4 linked regions of the Homo sapiens genome follow. The protein of the gene in region 2 interacts with the protein of the main gene of each other region in a pairwise test. Each region holds a gene or a part of one and is shown on either strand. Other genes may lie near its edges.

Region 1 (4,276 bases), on a different chromosome or scaffold from region 2:
CAAAGTGATGACTTTTATTCATTTATTAACTGCAGAATACTTATAAATATGGTCACACAATGATTTAGTATTTATCTTTAGAATTCACTAAAATAGTGAAATAATTTTGTGGAGTCTGTTGTTTGTTTGAGATGGGGGTCTCACTATGTTGCCCCGACTAGAATGAAGTGGCTATTCACAGGTGCGATCATAGCACAGTACAACCTCAAACTCCTGGACTCAAGCAATCCTACCCATAGCCTCCCAAGCAGCCAGAACTACAGGCACACACCCCTATAACCAGCTCTAGAATTCTATATTCTAAGATCTGTAGTGAAGGAACATGTTTCAGATACATAGACATACCTAATTGAATGTTCCATTCAAAATGAGTGCTTCTCACATATAATTATAAGAAATTGCCTGATCAAAATTAACAGAAAACATACCAACCGGTTATCGCTGATGAATACGTGAACTTATTAGCCCAAAGTCTGCAACTTTTGGCCCTAAATTTAGCTGGCTAATTAACCTTTAAAAAAATTCAACTTACATAAAATTTTAAATTATCTCCCAAATCGAACCATTTCAAGTGAGTTTAAAACTGCTCAAAATTTTTTCTGTATTACTCACATATATATAGAGAGAGAGGAAACTAAGAATAGTATTTGGGATTGGCTATACCTAGGGAGACCATATAATTCATCACGCAACTAGGAGTTGTAAAAGGAGACACTAACTGGACCAGATGCCAGGACAAAAGGCATAAATCAGAACTGTCCCTAGAAAACCAGAACACATGGATCCCCTACCTGTGACAGTGAATTTAATATTTATTATCTCTAACATGAAAATTAACTTGGAATCTGGGGACTGTCATTTTGTGCTAACAAATCCTTTTCTAATACTCAAATATGCCTAGGGATAAAGTTTAAGTAGCAAATACAGGTATTTAAATTAATACATACTTACCAAAACGAGCAGAAATTAATGGAGAAAACATAGGGGGTTGCTTCATAATAGGAGGGAGAACCACAGGCAACTGTTGGCCTTGAAGCTTCAGTTTGATGAGTTTCATAGCTATGGAGAACTCTTGCTGATCCATCTTCCCATCCTTGTTTAGGTCTGATAAAGCCCTAAAAGGAGCATGAGGTAGGTAGATTGCTATGTGGTGTGGTGGTGGGAAAACTAACGTTATTTTGGGGATTGACAAAGTAAAAATGATGATATGGCATTCACGTGTACATCATCACTAAATTTAAAATATCTAACATGTAAAATATATAATAACAAAAAGATAAAACCTACACTTTAAGAAATACTGACCAGAGATAATAACTAATAAAACACTGCCTGTCAAAACAGAATCTAGAGACCTTTGGGCTGAATTCCACCAGTTTAGGTAGAAAAAAATTCAAGATTATAATACTTCTAAATTTAATTTATTCATCTGTCCAAATATTTACTGAATACTTGCTATGTGCCTCGTACTCTACCAGGCATGAGAATATTCCAAGTGGAAAGATGGGACAGGGGTTGTTACTTATTGTAAACGTTTTTAAAAAAACAGATATTATAGAGAATAGTTTCTTTAAAGAAGGAGCAGGGGAAGCGAGGACTAATTTGGGGTTTATAGATTATGAAATAAATGAAACTACAAAATAACAGAAAGAGGATTTTGAGATTCTGCCAAATTATAAGGAAATTTTTCTCAATGATAATGTATATATCTTTCCTTAGAAAATTCTAATGAAATTAGAAATTTGTCCTAGAGAACTAAACCTGAATTATTTTCAATAATTTGCTCAATAAAATTTATTTTCCAAAAAACTGAAGAAATACCTTTTTTTTTTTTTTTTTTCTAAAGAGAGTCTCATTCTGTCATCCAGGCTAGGGTGCAGTGACACAATCATAGTTCACTGCAGCACTGAATTCCTGGGCTCAAGCAATCCTTCCATCTTGGCCTCCCTGAGTAGCTGGGACTAGAGGTGTGGCCACCACACCCAGCTAATTTTTTTTTTAATTTTCTGTAGAGACAGGGTTCTCACTATGTTGCCCAGCCTGGCCTCAAGCAATCCTCCTACCTCAGACTCCCAAAGTGCTGGCAGAAATATTCTTAATAACCAATAGAATGCAACTAAAAACAATTTTATGTTAACACTATATTACAAAAAAACAAAATACTATCAGAAAATTAGGTTCATCTACAAAACACTTTACCATATTTCAGCTAAAACAGGGGCCGGCAGACCTGATTGTAGGAAAAAATTACGTGCTTGATCACCTGGAGGTAATAAAAACAAAACCCAAGCAGCACATTAGTAAATGAAATTATTCCAATGCTTCTGAATAATAATGGGTATATGTTAATGATTTATTATAATTTTAATACCAATCATTAAAGAATAAGTGAAATAGAAACACATAAAAATTATTTACATAACTTTAATAAGACAGATATTTTAAAACAAAAGTCACATCTGCACTTCTATTGTATATTAATCAGTGATGAAAGATGATTCATCTCAGTTTTTCCACAATTGGGGTCTTCCTTAAAAATACTTCCACTTAGTAAAATTTATATTTAAAAACACTATTCCCTAAAAGAGTTTCAATATAAAAAGTACCAGGTGTTAGGAGAGAGAGTCCTCCATGAGTTTCTTCACACTCCTATGTGTCTTGCTCTGTATACCAATAATGTAAGACCCTAATTGCTCTCTGCCTGGGTCACTTCTCAGAATTGGGTTTGTAATGAGCAATCTTAACGAATCCGGTAACGTTTCCCACTGAGACAAGGGACAAACTTGCTTTACTGCTTGCTACAAAAGGGTGGGTTCCCCAAATTCAGTGTTCCTCTCCTGTAACACAATCATAGCATGTGTACTATTCTCCTGGGCTCTCTGCATTGTCTCTGTGGGACTTAGGGAACACTAAAGGAAACAGAAAGATAGATGCCAATGCTCATTTTGCTAGTTATGCTGTTAGTCATAAGGTTCTTTGTCTCTGACTCAGGAATCTTGGGTCTTCCACCCGTAATGGACAAAGTTATTAACCTGTAAGCAGGGTAATCAAATCCTGATACCAGGTAAGGTAATTACTATCATAGCAGTACAAATAACATGGTTAAGTAGATGGATTCCAAAATCAGCCCAAATGGTTTCAAAGCCCAGATTAACACTAACCATCTTTGTAACCTTAGGCAGTTACATAACGTCTCTTAGTCTCAGTTTCACTATTTGTAAATATAGACAACAACAGTGCCTACTTTACAGGGTTGTTGTAAAGGTTAAATAAAATAATGCACTTAGCATAGCATCTGGTATATAGTAAAAATTCAATAAATATCATTGTTCTCATAGTTACTATTATTGTATGTAAAGCACTAAGCTACTTTGGCACAGAAAAAAGTTTAATTAATAGAAAAAAATTTCAAAGGCACACCTAAATTAATCCCATTTTGGCTCTGGTGGTCTTTCTGCAAAACAAGGGCTAGCATCAACAATCAGTGCTTGGTGTAGCCTCAAAGACAGAGGGCTAGCATTAGGAAAACAGATTCCAGAAAAAAAAAGTCTAGATTTTCCATGAAATGAATCTAAGAAATAAACTGAAAACTTTCTAGATATAATGTTAAAATGTGAAACCAGACAATTACACAGAAATTCTTGACTATCATTTAGGATTCAGGAAAAATCTTCCATATCCCAAATTTAAAACAACAAATTAAGACAGTTCCAGGAAAAATAAAGTTAGCATTTCTTTAATTTCTAGAATTCTGATTGATATGAATTTTATCGTTTATTAACACAAATTTGATGGCAGTCAAATTAAAACTAATTCTTAGATATCACATAAGGACCATAATTCACTAATAAAACTAATTATAAATACAAACCTGTTATGTAACCTCCTGAAGGTTTGAGGTTATCAAACTGCCTGTCATGCTTAGTACGTTCTTCAGAGGTAATAGCCCACATGTTTGGCCCTCCTGAAACATAAGTGGAAGAAACTATAGTGTATACATGAGAATGCTTAAAATACAATTCTAAAATGTAAATAGAAATCACAAGTGTTCATTGTATGACAGTATTTAATATTTGAGTGACACAAAGAGTAGAGCTCTATCATAACCATACATAGCACAGCCCTAAGGCTTTTCACTCATTGGCTCAATTAACGTCTATTGAACAAGTGCTATATCACACTCACTGGAAATGGGCATCAAGCTAAATACTGGCAATAAAAAGATGAAGAAAATATTCCCACCCTCAAGGAATTCATGCTCTAGAAAACAACAGTA
Region 2 (5,054 bases):
CCCTTATGTCCTAATATTAAATTAAAAGGTAGGATACCAAATTGTATGTACCGTAAGAGCTCAATTATGCATATTTTCCAGCTTTTCTACGATGAACATGTATGATATAATCAGGAAAAACATATTGTTTTAAAAGAAATACAGGAAATTTGGAGAGATACTGGTGGAAACGGAGCTCTGGTTGTCACTGGATACTAGGACTTAAGGAGACAGTATGAGAGTATGTGTGTATTTAATAACCATTTACTGCTCACTGTCTTTAGTTGGGGTAAGTGAGAAGAAATGTAGTCCCTAATTATTTCTAGTAGGAAGCTCACAAGGACAAACTCATTAGAGCATCATGGTAGTCAGTGTTATGGGGACGCTCAGAGAGCCTTTTAAGAACAAAATGGGGGCTGGGCACGGTAGCTCACGCCTGTAATCCCAGCACGTTGCGGGGCCAAGGCGGGCGAATCGCGAGGTCAGGAGTTCGAGACCAGCCTGACCAACATGGTGAAACCCCGTCTCTACTAAAAATACAAAAAATTAGCCAGGCATGGTGGTGTGCACCTGTAATCCCAGCTACTTGGGAGGCTGAGGCAGGAGAATTTCTTGAACCTGGGAGGCAGAGGTTGCAGTGAGCCGAGATGGCACCACTGCACTCCAGCCTGGGCAACACTGTGAGACTCCGTCTCAAAAAAAAAAAAAAAAAGAGCAAAAGGAGGAGCAGCTTACTCATCATGAGTAGTCTGGGAAAACATATGCGCTCAGTCTCAAGTCAAAAGTAATCGTAACTACTTATCTATCTATCTATCTATCTATCTATCTATCTATCTATCTATTTATTTGTAATCCCTTCAATAACCCTATGAGGAAGATATTATCAAACACCCCATTCATTCAACAAATAGTGCTTGAGCACCTTCCATGTATCAGTGCTGTGGGCTTTTCTAGGCTCTGGGATATAGCATTGATCAAAACAGACAAAAATCTTTGCCCTCATTGAGCTTATATTCTAGTACGAAAAAAGAAAACTGAGGTTCAAAGGTATCTTACAGTCACTTGCCCATAAAAATATACTGAAGCTGGACTTAAACCCACAGTAATCTAAGTCTGCTCATCAGATAGGAAAGAGGGAACAGAGCCTGATGGACGGAAGAACACCTATAAAAGCACAGAGGCAAGGAAGAACATGGTATGCTCAGAGAATAGAAATAGTGTGCAGGGGCCAAAGCGTCAAGAGGCCCACAGGGACCAAACTCTGCAGGGTCTTGATAGCCATGCAAAGAACTTGACCTTGTTAGGTGGAAGAATTGGTCATCACTGCTTTAGGATGGGATGATCAAGCTAGTGTCTGCTTACATTGGACAACTAGTGCTGCAGTGTTGAAAAACTTGCATGGACCTCCATGGTTTTTGTTTGTTTGTTGTTGTTTTTTTTTTTTTTTTTTTTTTTTGAGACAGGGTCTTGCTCTGTCACCCAGGCTGGAGTGCAGTGGTGTGATCTCGGCTCACTGCAACCTCTGCCTCCCTGCAACCTCTGCCTCCCTGATTCAAGTGATCCTCCCACCTCAGCCTCCCAAGTAGCTGGGATTACAGGCACGTGCCACCACACCCACCAATTTTTTGTATTTTTCATAGAGACAGGGTTTCGCCATGTTGCCCAGGCCGGTCTCAAACTGCTGGCCTCAAGTGATCCACCCACCTTGGCCTCCCAAAGTGCTGGGATTACAGACGTGAGCCACCTCACTCAGCCTCTCCATAGCTTTTTATAAGGGCAGCAGTTTATTTAAAAGTGTACTACCTCCCTGGTTTGCTGTCACATACATTAACGTCTGGTCGTGTTGATACTTTTTAGGTCTTGCCATGAAAAACATTTTTATTACAAAAATGCCTTTTGCTGGCATATTCAAGGCATAGTGTGGTTTCAGAGTAGTGAAGGAATTCCATTGGAAAAGCTATCAAGGGTAAATGAGTGGGGTTTTTTCCTCAATATTATTTTTCTGTCTCAGGGAGCTATGGCAACATCCAGAATCTGGATTTTGATGAAATGTTTTAATGTTCATAAAATGGGAAATTGATCTTGAAAATGACCCCTTTTTTGCCTTATTTTTGTTTGTGTAACTTGGAGTTAATTTTACATTTTGAGATTGTGAGATTTTAAAAACTTTATGGTTTTAGGTGATGGTTTTAACCCATCTTGGGACTTGGGGAAAGCTTTTAAGACTGTTTTCTAGAGAGCCAGAAGCCAGCAGGCCCCTGTCTATTACACATGACAGGCAAGACTGTTAGGAAGCAAAGCCACACGGACTTTCCAGCCCCTCTGTGGAGCCTCAGAGCGTTTACAGATTTGGCAGTCTCAAGGGCAACATGTGGGTGGCTGATGCTGGTGGATTGCTGCTGTCAGGGATAATAAAACCATTATGGTTAGCAGCTTGTACGGTAGCACGCAAATGGATCAGCTCAGTCTCCACACAGTTAAGTTGGAGCATAAGAAATCCAAACCATGACTGATCTCAATCATTTCCTTTCCTACAATTTTTTTCTTTTGGCCACTGCTTTACAGTGATTCCAGATCAATCCTAGGCACTGCACCCACTATCATCAAATTCACGTACATAGTTCTTTGCATTTTCACTGCATGCTTGTCCATGGGAGCCCTCTGGTAGCAGTTCCAATTCAGTGCCTTCTCGTTTGCCTTTGCTTCCCAAATCATCACAGTTCTGTGCTTATCCATCCCACATTGACTCACATCCTCCAGAAAATGGCAGGATTGTCATTTCAAAGAAATGGAGGCATCAAGTTGAATAACTTGATACAGAAGCTGGAGTTGGAACCCAGGTCCTCTACTTCCAGGAAGTGCTCTCTTTTTTTGTTTGTTTTTTTAGAGACAGGGTCTCGCTCTGTTGCCCAGGCTGGAGTGCAGTGGCTCACTCATGGCTCACTGCAGCCTCAACCTCCCAGGCTCAAGCGATCCTCCCACCTCAGCCTCCCAAGTAGTTGGGACTACAGGCATGTTCCACCATGCCTGACTAATTTTATTTATTTATTTACTTATTTATTTATTTATTGGTAGAGATGGGGGTCTCGCTGTGTTGCCCAGGCTTACATGTTCTGTTCATTGAACGTCATTGCCTCTTGAGGATTCAGTTTCTTGAGTTTTTGTTATGGTTTTATTCTGTTTAGTTTTTTAAAGTAAAACTTCACCTCATTATGAAAGTTTTACAGCATTTAAATTTTTATGTTCAACATGTTTCTCAAAATCATTTCAATATTTTGATCCCCAGTTTTTGTCATGATCAGCTCACATCTGCTCCTTATCTAACCTTTTTAATTTTGTCCATGACCATCCTACACTGCAGGCTTCTCAACCAGATGAGTTGACCATTGAGGAACATGAGGTGTTAGAAGTGATTGAAGATGGAGATATGGAAGACTGGGTAAAGGTATATTCCTTTGCTCATATCGCCCTTTCTTGTGACATTTTTAGGAGTTTGTTTTGGTCTTTGTTGTGCCCTGTCTAAATTGTGTGTGTAAACTTGTTTTGTCACATGTCTTTTACCCAGGCTCGAAATAAAGTTGGCCAAGTGGGTTATGTGCCAGAAAAGTACCTACAGTTTCCCACCTCGAACAGCCTCCTGAGCATGCTGCAGTCCCTGGCCGCTTTGGACAGTCGGTCACACACGTCCAGCAATTCCACGGAAGCAGAACTCGTTTCAGGCAGCCTCAACGGAGATGCCAGTGGTAAAGACTGAAACAAGGCACTCTTTATTTGGTCACGTTTGACCTAAACTGTATTGCCCTGGAGTAAGCCTTCAGTAGGATAAAAAGCACAACTTTCCTCCTGTCCTATAATATGCTTTTCTTTATATGGTCACGTTTGTCCTGCACAGTAGAACCCTAAAGTTAATCATTCATCAGTGAGTAAAAAAATTACAACTTTAATCCTATTCTGTATGATGCTCTTTTAGTTGTCATGTGAGCATAGGGGTGGTTGCAAAAGCAACCGGCTGTTAATTATCTTACCAGATTTGTTTTTCTCTTGCTCCCTAGTATGTTTTGTGAAAGCACTTTATGATTATGAGGGCCAGACAGATGATGAGTTATCTTTTCCTGAGGGAGCAATAATCCGTATCTTGAACAAAGAAAACCAAGATGATGATGGCTTCTGGGAAGGGGAATTCAATGGGCGTATTGGAGTTTTCCCATCGGTGCTAGTGGAAGAACTTTCAGCCTCAGAAAATGGTGACACTCCATGGATGAGAGAGATTCAGGTACCTGAGAGGGGAGACAGTTGAATTAAAAGATGTTTAAAGAAAATTGCTCCCAAAGGGTCTGTGGATCCACACAAAAGTGGGCTGCAGTCTCTGCCTTACCCTCACCGGTCCTTGGTTGCCAGTGTCTGCACAACTGCATTTGGGAAACCAGAGACTTGTCAGTCAGTCCCTTGTGGAATGTGGCCATCCTCCCACACCTCCATCTTCCCACATTCTCTCTCTTCCTTGAATTGGTTAACCAAAATGCCAAATTATATGTGACATACCAAAGATCGTTTTGGTGGAGAGAAAGAAACAAACCGAAGAGGGAAGGCGTTGCTCTGTGGTTAATTTACGTAGTAAAACTCTTAGCTGGCTCTCTCTCTCCCTCACTGTCAGAGCCTCCTTGCCTAGTCCAGGTCCTGCCAGTCTATTTCAGAGAATTAATGAGCCTGCCAGAGCCCCTAATCCCCACTCAAGTGACCCTAGACTTAGTTCATCACAGGGAAACAGCCTTTAAAGGAACCTCTAATTCAGTCAGAGTTTAGTTTGTCCCCTCAGGGATCTATCACTGCAGGCCAGACAGGTAGAGGAAGAAGGAACGTGTTTGCCGATCTTGTTTGCGTGGTGATTGTGACCCCTTAGCCTAACATGCACAAAACCTGGGGAAGTCAGAAATTCAGCAAAGTATTTTATCTTCACCCCAAAAAATCCAACTTGTTCCTTTTGTTGTTGTTGTTCTTTGCTAAGTTTACTGAATTGACTAATTTGGTACATTTTCAATAGAACCCTAGAGAGTAGCTTCACTTGATAACTGTTT
Region 3 (4,276 bases), on a different chromosome or scaffold from region 2:
CAATCAACTTCATAAGCTTGTCATTATATAGTGTGAGTTCAAGTCATTGTCAACCAATCACTCACCACTATTTTAAAAACTCCATTTTAAAAGAGGTGAATCCATCTGATAGCTGGAGTGAGAAAAGAAGGTAAGTAACAAGGTTTCCAGAATGTGCTTTAAAGAGGTTTATTTCTGCATAAGGATACTATATCTTCTGCTCACACCAATCTCACAAATTAGGTATTATCTGCATTTTATTGCCGATAAAGAACACGCTTAATAGGACATGGTTTGTTTGACCTTGAGTGGAGATCTTTAGGGGAAGTGTAGCAGAGGAGAATGTGAAGTTAAACTAACAGGGCAAATGAAAGAGATGTTGAAGTGACTGGTGATCTATATTAAGGGTAAGGGTGGGTAAAGAGGAAATTATGAAGGGACTGGACAACTGGAAAACAAGAATTGGTTGCAGAGTAGATCTTGATTTGTTCTTTGGTCTTTTCTGCCTTTGGACTATTTATTGTCTTGCACTCCTAAATTTCTCAAGTTCTGAGTTCTTGATGCCTTCTCCCCCACTTCTAACAAAGCCAAAATAACTTTCTCAGTCAATTTTCAGGATTTTTATTTCTGAGGAGATGTAGCACTGCAATGAATATGTAAGATGTGCCATGAGCCAGGCTAGGCTGTAAAGCTGCAAGGACAAGCAATGATTCATGTACTTAGATGTTTCTGGCTGGTGGGGAGGGCAGAGAGATGTGAAGGTAATTAGCCCACAGCATGGTAATTTTAGAATAAAGGCAAACAGAGGGTGCTCTGGAGCACAGAAGAGGAGCATTGTAAAAGAAGCTAGTGGGGGTGAAGAAAGGCTTCCTGGAAGATAATGATCCGTGATACCAGTCTTGAGGGATGAGTAGATAGCAATGGTGTTGGCAGCATTTCAGATGTAGGGAGAGGAGAAAGAGCACAATGTTGAGAGAGACAGGTTTCACAGTGTGAGTGTGGGAGTAGCATGAGATGAAGACAGAGAGGCAAGCAGGGTCCAGGTGGGCCATGAACACAAAAGGCATCACCAAAGGATGTAAAGCAGAGGTCATGTGGCAAGCCTTCTTTTTAAGAAAGATCTCTCTGGTCAAGGGTAGAGAAAAGTACTGCAGATATAGAAAGTTACACTTATTTTAATATAATTTGTAGCTGAATATCTTCAAGTGATTATTTTTCAAGTGTCATGATTACTATCCAGAATTAGTTCTTGATATTTATTTGGGTATTATCTTCTTTATCATCTGCCCAAATAGAGGTTTCTTATACCAGGAGTATTCAGCAAACAAGGAAGAGACAACAAATAGAAGGGCCTTCAGAATAATGAAGGGAAAAGGGTGTTGGAGAGGAACCTCTGCAGAGTCACAGTTCACAGAACAAACATAAATGGACTCTTGGACAAACAATGAGTGCTCCAATTGCACTGAAATTGAACAATGGCTCACGTTGCAAAGAAGCACAAGTGTTTTCTGTCTGTAAACTTCAGTCAGTAAAGGAAAAAAAGCTAGAAAAAATAATACCCTGAGTTTTTATAGTAAAGGTGGAGAATATTTGTCTTCCATAGATAGTTGAAATATTTAAAAAAATATATTTTCTTAATATAAGAAAATTGTAGGAGAAAACAGTTTAGAAAACTATGTGAATGCAAACTTCTCTTTTCCATTCTACTTTGAAGTTGTTTGGTTAACTAAGGACAGAGATTTAAGTTCCATTTTCGAAGTATTTAAAATCCTATTACTATTGCATTGCTTTCATTTGTTCGTTTTGAGACAAGGTCTCACTCTGTAACCCAGACTGGAGTGCAGTGGCACAATCACAGCTCACTGCAGCCTCAACCTCCTTGACTCAAGTAATCCTTCCACCTTAGCCTCCTGAGTAGCTGGGACTACAGGTGCATGCCACCATGCCCAGCTAATATTTTTTAAAGTTTGTTGTAGAGATGTTTATGTTGCCCAGGCTGGTCTCCAACTCCTGGGCTCAAGCAATTCTCTTACCTTGGCCTCCCAAAATGTTGGGATTACAGGCATGAACCACCATGTCTGGCTGCATTGTAATTTTTATGATCTACCCAGGACCAGATGAACTGAGTCATAGGCTTCAAATCTCACATTCCTTTCCAAGTTTTATATTCCAAGCTAGAATTTTTATGTGAACAAATACACTCTTATTAACTTTTATTGAACTTGATTGATTTTAGACAGGGAGAGAGCTTGTGGTCACGTTGAAGGTCACTTACAGAAGGTGCTGTGGGCACAAGGTCATCTTCTGTTCTTCCTGTCTGCATTGCTGTGTGAACCCGGACAGATTCATAAATGGAGGGTTCTTCCACTTTTCTTGGGTAGGGATGTTTTAGAACCATCAGAGTGCCTGAATGAAGATGAAAAATATATAATCGAACAGTGTTCCCAGAAGGAAGGTCCAAATGCTAACTGGATAACTGTGGCTGGATTGGAAAGTCTTTTGTTTTTTTCATGTATTCCCTCGCTCATTATCTCAACAGTTATCAAATACCAATTAGGTATAAGGCACTTAAGCTGGACACTGAGATATAAAGCATGATGGAGATGTTCCTTGGCCTCCTGGTGCTCAGAACTGGTAACAGATATGGTCGTTTAAATGAACAGGGTGATGAGACCAATGGCAGCCGTGTGAGCAAAGCATGATAATCATCCCCAGACTGCTTGAAGAACCTTTCCATGAAAGGATTCAGGACAGCTTTCATAAAGGAGGTGACATTTGATTTAGATCTTAAGTAGTAACTGGAAGTTTTCCAGGAAGGCTTTATGAAAGCCATGAGAACAAGACTAAACAAAAGCACTAGGGTAGAGGAAGATCCATTCCATTGCCCTTATTTCCTATCAATCAGTTTCCGAATAAACGTGTAACAAATTAGTGGATTTCAAAAAAGTGAGCATTCTCCCTACTCTCTGATACTACCCAATTAATGAAAGTAACCAAGCAAAGTCTTTGCATTACTAAGTGAACATGACCTGAACAAGCTGGTGCTCACAAGTGATTGCCTCCTTCCCCTTCCATCTGGAGAGGGGAGCCTCCAGGCAGAAAAAGGGCTCAGCCCAGGGGGTCCAGGCATGGGGGGCTGGGGAACTTTGTTCCAAGGGCTCAGAGCAGTTCTGAGTCTATGTTTCTGACATTTCCTTCTTGAAATCCTTCCCTCAATCAATCAGTCAATCAGAAACTAGAAACTAACTACAAAAAGAGGCAACTTAAGGGGATTTTTTTTCTTCTTGCTATGGTTTCTTGCTTTTAATTTTACTAGGGTCTTTTCTATAGCAAGCCTAAGATTGTACCAGACATGGAAGAGATGTAAAGAATTCAGCAATTCATTCAACGAATATTTACAGAGCTTTGCACTCTGCCAGGCACTTGTCTAGGTACTGGGAATGCAATAGCACACAAAGGAGTTTAAATGCTCTTATCGAGCTTATGTTCTAGGTAGAGGAGACAGAAAAAAAATTTAAAAAATATTTTATGTGTGAGAAGTGTTATGGAAAAAATGAATAGGGCATGGTAAAGGGATAGAGAATAGAAAAGGTAGGGTTGGGAGAGGGTGATATTTTACAAGGGTCATCAGGAAGGGCGTCTTTGAAAAGATTTGAAAGATCTGGAGAGTATAGAACCTGAATTAGAGTAAGAGTGAGAAAATGAAAAAGAAAAATGTCTCCTCTGTGGTTAAAAAACACCCTAATGTTAATGATAAATCTACACAAAACAGGCCGGGCACAGTGGCTCACATCTGTAATCCCAGCACTTTGGAAGGCTGAGGTGGGTGGATCATGAGGTCAGGAGATCGAGAGCATCCTGGCCAACATAGTGAAACCCCATCTCTACTAAAATACAAAATAAAAACAAAAATAAATTAGCCGAGCGTGGTGGCAGGCACCTGTAGTCTCAGCTACTCGGGAGGCTGAGGCAGGGAAATTGCTTGAACCCGGGAGGCGGGGGTTGCGGTGAGCCGAGATCGCACCACTGCACTCCAGCCTGAGTGACAGAGTGAGACTCTGTCTCAAAAAAAAAAAAAAAAAAAAAAAACTACACAAAACAAAACCTGTCTATGATACTTGAATACATACAATGTCTGACTGCAAAAACAGAACTGTGGCTTTTGATACTTGGGCCCAGATAAGGTGCTGCTGTAAAATGAAAAGCTGTTGAGAAAAGCCAGAAGAGGGTGTCTGATCTCGACCTCAGAGAAGAATGAAAGCCTCTGGCCCTTCCTCTTTCTGTCTCTCATTGGCAT
Region 4 (4,276 bases), on a different chromosome or scaffold from region 2:
GTAAGCCTACGGCAGGTCTTTTCCAAGGCAGGGTGCCGTGCCTGCAGCAGTACTTGGGTATTTCTTACCATTTAATGTAAGTGGTGCTAGTGCTTTTATTTTTAATGTGTCACCGACAAAGTCTGTGAGTGCTGTGCCCCTAACTCCATTTCCCCATAAACCCTGTGGTTTTCCTTGTGTGATTTTACACAGCACAGTGATTGTTAGGAGCGTATGTGTGGCGTTACAGCAGAACTGAGTGTATGTGGGAAAAGTCAGCAACAGGTAAATGCCACTGACTGTGCTGTGTGGACCACCTCATCCATCTCACAGTGGCCCCTGAGGTGGGCCACATTATATCCCCTCCAGACAGATGAGGAAGCAGGCAGATGCGATGTTTCCAAGCTCACACAGCCAGCAAGCAGCAAAGCCTGGTTCCTCCTAACCTTCACTGGCCCAGAGCAAACAGAGGACTGGGGTGGATGAGGTCCCAGGAGTGTGGGGATGCCCAGAGCTGCCTGTATTCCAGGAGCCACAGAGATTCTGGAAGCAGCTGCTATCCCTGAGGGCGGCAGAGACCTGGACCCCTCTGACTTCCTCCCGGGGTGAGGAAGCAGCCTGGGGCCACTCTCATGCTTTGTTGCAGGTTAGAGGGAACCCCCGCCTGTGGGCTGTCAGTTCTGGTCTGCTCCCTGTGGGCAGCTGTGTGAGAATGAACTCTCCTCGGCCCAGTGGCATCCAGAGCCGAGCCTCAGCAGGAATTTGAGGGAAGAAAATCTGCCAAAGAGGGCACCACTGCCCCTAAGAGGGAAGTAGAGGGCATTTCTGGGAGGCGGCCCAGCCAGAGGTTGGAGACCTAGGGCAGGGAGCCGGGGGAAACAAAGGCCTTGCCTGACCTAAGAAAACACTCGCCAAAAAGCTGGAAAGTCAGGGGCGGTGGCTCACGCCTATTATCCAGTTACGTGGGAGGCTGAGGTGGGTAACTTGCCTGAACCCAGGAGTGCAAGGCAAGCCTGGGCAACATAGTGAGACTCCATCTCTTAAAAAAAAAAAAAAAAAGCTGGAACCTCCTGTCCCTAGTGCCCTGGGCCAGTCCCTGTTCCCTCTGCGCGTCAGTCTCATCACTGTGAAAGGGGACCGGCCTGAGTGCTGCTGGGCTCCATTCATGAACCAAACATTTGCCAGGCACTGGCCAGGGGCCAGGACAGCGCCGCATCTGTGCCCTGCAATGGGGCTGGACGCCTCAGGGCTGCAACCCAAGCCTGCCCCACCCGGCCCCAGGACCCCACCCACCACATCCACGGTGCTGAACACATGGCAATAGTGGTGGCTGGTCTGCAGGTCCTTGGTGATGTAGGCAAAGGTACAGAGGTCCTCCGGGTCCTGGGCCGCACAGGAAATGTTCCGGATCTCGTGCTCTGCAATGACGTTCTGCTGGGGAAAGCCGTGTTCTGGAATTCTCAGGCTCAGGCATGCCTCTGGCACCCCCTGCCCCAGCCTGTTACCATTGTCACTGTTCTCTGTCCCAGCCTAGAGCATCAAGCAAACCCCCCTTCATCTTCTCATTTTGTTTATTGGTGGGGGTGGGGGTCCCCGATTTTGGTTTGGGGTCTCCACCCCTTACCACAACAACTAAGGCAGTAAAATGTTCACACCCAACCACAAGCTCTCCCCAGCCCCTCCCACCTTCCAGGGTGGGGGCAAAGTGGGAAGGGTGTCAGGAAGGTGGGATCCCACACGGTGGCACACAGAGAAAGTCCTTTGCTCACGGAGGGAATCACACCTGTGAGCAGGTGTGCGGCCAGTGGAGCCCAGGTGGCGAGGCTAACAGCAGTGATCACTAGGGCGGGGACGGGGCTGACAGCAGGCACCCAGGCCAGCAGATGAGAGACACGCCTCTTAGCAAAGTGGGAAGTAATAAGAGGACTGGGGACCCTCTAGGGAGATAAGAGATGAGACAGGGCAGCCGGGTTGCTTGCCCTGGAGCCCTGTGGGTCTGACGGGGATGTGGGTCCCACTCCCACCAAGAGTCCCTGTAAGCAGCACACCTTGTTGGAGGCATCGATGAACTTGACACCTTTGTATGTGATGGACAGGATGATGGTGGGGATCTTCTTCATGTGCTCCGTAGATTTCTACAGGAAACAAGGGGTGGCCCTGTCAGTGCCCCTTCTCAGGGCTAAGCCTCCTGGGCTTCCACAGGTCCCAGCTTCCTTCCCATCCTTACATAGTGCAGCAGGGCCCAGGCAACTGCAGCTACTGCCCCCATTGCTGCCTTCTGCTGGCCAGTCCCACAGCGCCCTCCAGCCCACACAGGCACCCTACCCGCATCTTGGCACAGGCGTCTTGCGTGGATTCTGTCCCTCGCAGATCTTTGATCAGCATGGAGCCCAGATACTGTGGGGGCGAGCAGTGGCCAGGCTTAGGAAATCCTGCGTTTCCATGCAGGGGTGACCCAACCAATTTGGGACTGTCCCACAATCAAGTAGTTACCCCTCTCAATAACAACACCCCCTCTCCTGCCCCAGCTGGAGAGACCCTCCATTCAACTCCCTAGCTAAAGGATCCAGAGGCCTCCACCCCTTCGCCTTAGCTGTCAAGAGTGGCTGAGAGTGGAGAACAGCTCAAAAGCCCTGGGCCTGGCTTTGTGGAGTCCCTGCTGGGACTTGGCCGCAGGTGCCTGGCCGAGAAGGAGCAGGGAGGCCGGCCCTGCTGGGAGGGTGGGAGCAACTCACATTGGCTTCATAACCACAGGACTCGAAGATGAGTTTCTCTGGCTGGTGTTGCCAACTCTGCACTGGGGCGTAGGGGGCTGCCAGGCTCGGGGGCCGCAGGGTCAGCTTGGCCTCACGGTGCTCCTCCTGCGAAACACACGCAATTGGACACCTGCTCCTTGCTCCAGAGGAGCACATGGGCTTGCTGCCTGGCTCCAGCACACTCAAGGGTGAAGATGCCAGTGACCTTAGCAAGTTCAAGGGTCGAGTGGAGATGGCAGGGGGCAGACCAGCAATTCAAACACACTGCGGGAGAGGGGAGGTGCTAGCCACAGCAGAGGCACAGCAGGGACCCAAACCGCCTGAGAGCAGGGCTTGGGAAGGACAGTCTCTGTGGTGTCCGAGATGAGTCTCAAAGGAGATGGGAAATGACCAGAGAGGAGATGGCAGAGTCTGTGTGGGGGGCACAGGCTGCCAGGCTGTTCTGCACAAAGACCAAAGGAGAGAACAGCGCCCACGAGACCCTGGGACGCCTTGGGACCCAGCCCAGGGCCTGGGAGGGATCTTCACAGCGGGGAAGCCAGTGAAGCACCCGCCCGTGCCTAGGAATGCATTCCAAATGGATCCTTCTGGCAGCAGCTAGGGGGTGGGGGAGGCCACTGCGGTCCAGGTGAGAGATCATGGGTCCCTGTCCAGGGCACTGGTGGAAGGAATGGAGAGGAAGGAAAAGATTCAGGAAACACGGAGGCCCTCCCTTCCCAGCAGTGCGCAGAGCCTCTCAACAGCAACCGGAATTGCTGGACAATGTGTTTAAAAATCCTTTAAAACTCATGGCTGTGCTTGTAGAAAGGGAAAGGAAGTCCCCAGAGCCAGAAGTGAGAAGTGAGAGTCAGAGAAACAAGCAGGGGTGAAGCTGAAGTTCACCCGGAGGGGCCTGAGGGACACCTGCTAATCCTGTGTCTGACAGGCCAAGAAGAGGACAAAGGACAAAGCCAAGGTCCGTACAAGGAGGGAGGCAGGACAGGCAGGTCCTGAGTAAATCCAGGACCCCTGGAAATGATGCCCTGAGAAGGTGAGCCAGGAGTGTGAGACGGGCCCACCTCCGCCAGGGCTGGAGCGGGCACCGGGAGCGGAGGAGGCGTCTCCAGCGGTGCCCCCCACGGGGCTGCAGGCAGAGAACAGGAAGAACAGAATCTGGTCTGGCTGTGGTTTTGCTGAGCAGGAGGAAGAGAATGCTGCCGAGGTGAAGCTGCAGGGAAAGCAGTTCTGGGGAACAACGTGGGTAAGCAGAGAAGGAAGGGGCCAAGAAGGAGCTCAGAGGCCAGGAGAGCACAGAGGGCTCTGGGGCCAGCAGGGGAGGCAGTGCAGGACGCAAGAGGCCACAGAGAAAGAGCGGACAGGGGATCTGAACCCCTGAGGGAGGGAAGTACAGGACACAGGAGTGGCCCCAGCAGCTGACAGCTAAAGTGAGTTGTGCGGCCCGAGCTCGGCACCATGGGTGCTGGGTGGGCCTTACGCAAGGCGGCTGGGTGTGGGCGAGCAGAGCAGGCTAGTGCCTCCTGACTCTGGTGCCAGCCCAACTG

Evidence for each region. Proteins that work in one complex are often made in the same cells at the same time.
Region 1: the proteins of FCHSD2 (region 2) and ITSN2 interact in a two-hybrid assay, tested with the Homo sapiens proteins (one large-scale study listed by BioGRID).
Region 3: the proteins of FCHSD2 (region 2) and DAPP1 interact in a two-hybrid assay, tested with the Homo sapiens proteins (one large-scale study listed by BioGRID and IntAct).
Region 4: the proteins of FCHSD2 (region 2) and ANKS1A interact in a two-hybrid assay, tested with the Homo sapiens proteins (one large-scale study listed by BioGRID).

Annotation. Positions count from the first base shown.
Region 1 is NC_000002.12:24,311,261-24,315,536, forward strand, and holds part of ITSN2 (intersectin-2), read right to left. Parts: intron 3,965-4,276; coding exon 3,872-3,964; intron 2,264-3,871; coding exon 2,200-2,263; intron 1,116-2,199; coding exon 952-1,115; intron 1-951.
Region 2 is NC_000011.10:72,841,819-72,846,872, reverse strand, and holds part of FCHSD2 (F-BAR and double SH3 domains protein 2), read left to right. Parts: intron 1-3,132; exon of another isoform or gene 3,133-3,340; coding exon 3,341-3,424; exon of another isoform or gene 3,425-3,544; coding exon 3,545-3,722; exon of another isoform or gene 3,723-4,031; coding exon 4,032-4,252; coding exon of another isoform or gene 4,253-4,256; intron 4,257-5,054. UniProt on the Homo sapiens protein: Adapter protein that plays a role in endocytosis via clathrin-coated pits. Contributes to the internalization of cell surface receptors, such as integrin ITGB1 and transferrin receptor.
Region 3 is NC_000004.12:99,851,327-99,855,602, reverse strand, and holds part of DAPP1 (dual adapter for phosphotyrosine and 3-phosphotyrosine and 3-phosphoinositide), read right to left. Parts: intron 2,386-4,276; coding exon 2,255-2,385; intron 1-2,254. UniProt on the Homo sapiens protein: May act as a B-cell-associated adapter that regulates B-cell antigen receptor (BCR)-signaling downstream of PI3K.
Region 4 is NC_000006.12:35,081,255-35,085,530, reverse strand, and holds part of ANKS1A (ankyrin repeat and SAM domain-containing protein 1A), read right to left. Parts: intron 2,841-4,276; coding exon 2,715-2,840; intron 2,377-2,714; coding exon 2,305-2,376; intron 2,115-2,304; coding exon 2,028-2,114; intron 1,414-2,027; coding exon of another isoform or gene 1,411-1,413; coding exon 1,273-1,410; intron 1-1,272. UniProt on the Homo sapiens protein: Regulator of different signaling pathways. Regulates EPHA8 receptor tyrosine kinase signaling to control cell migration and neurite retraction.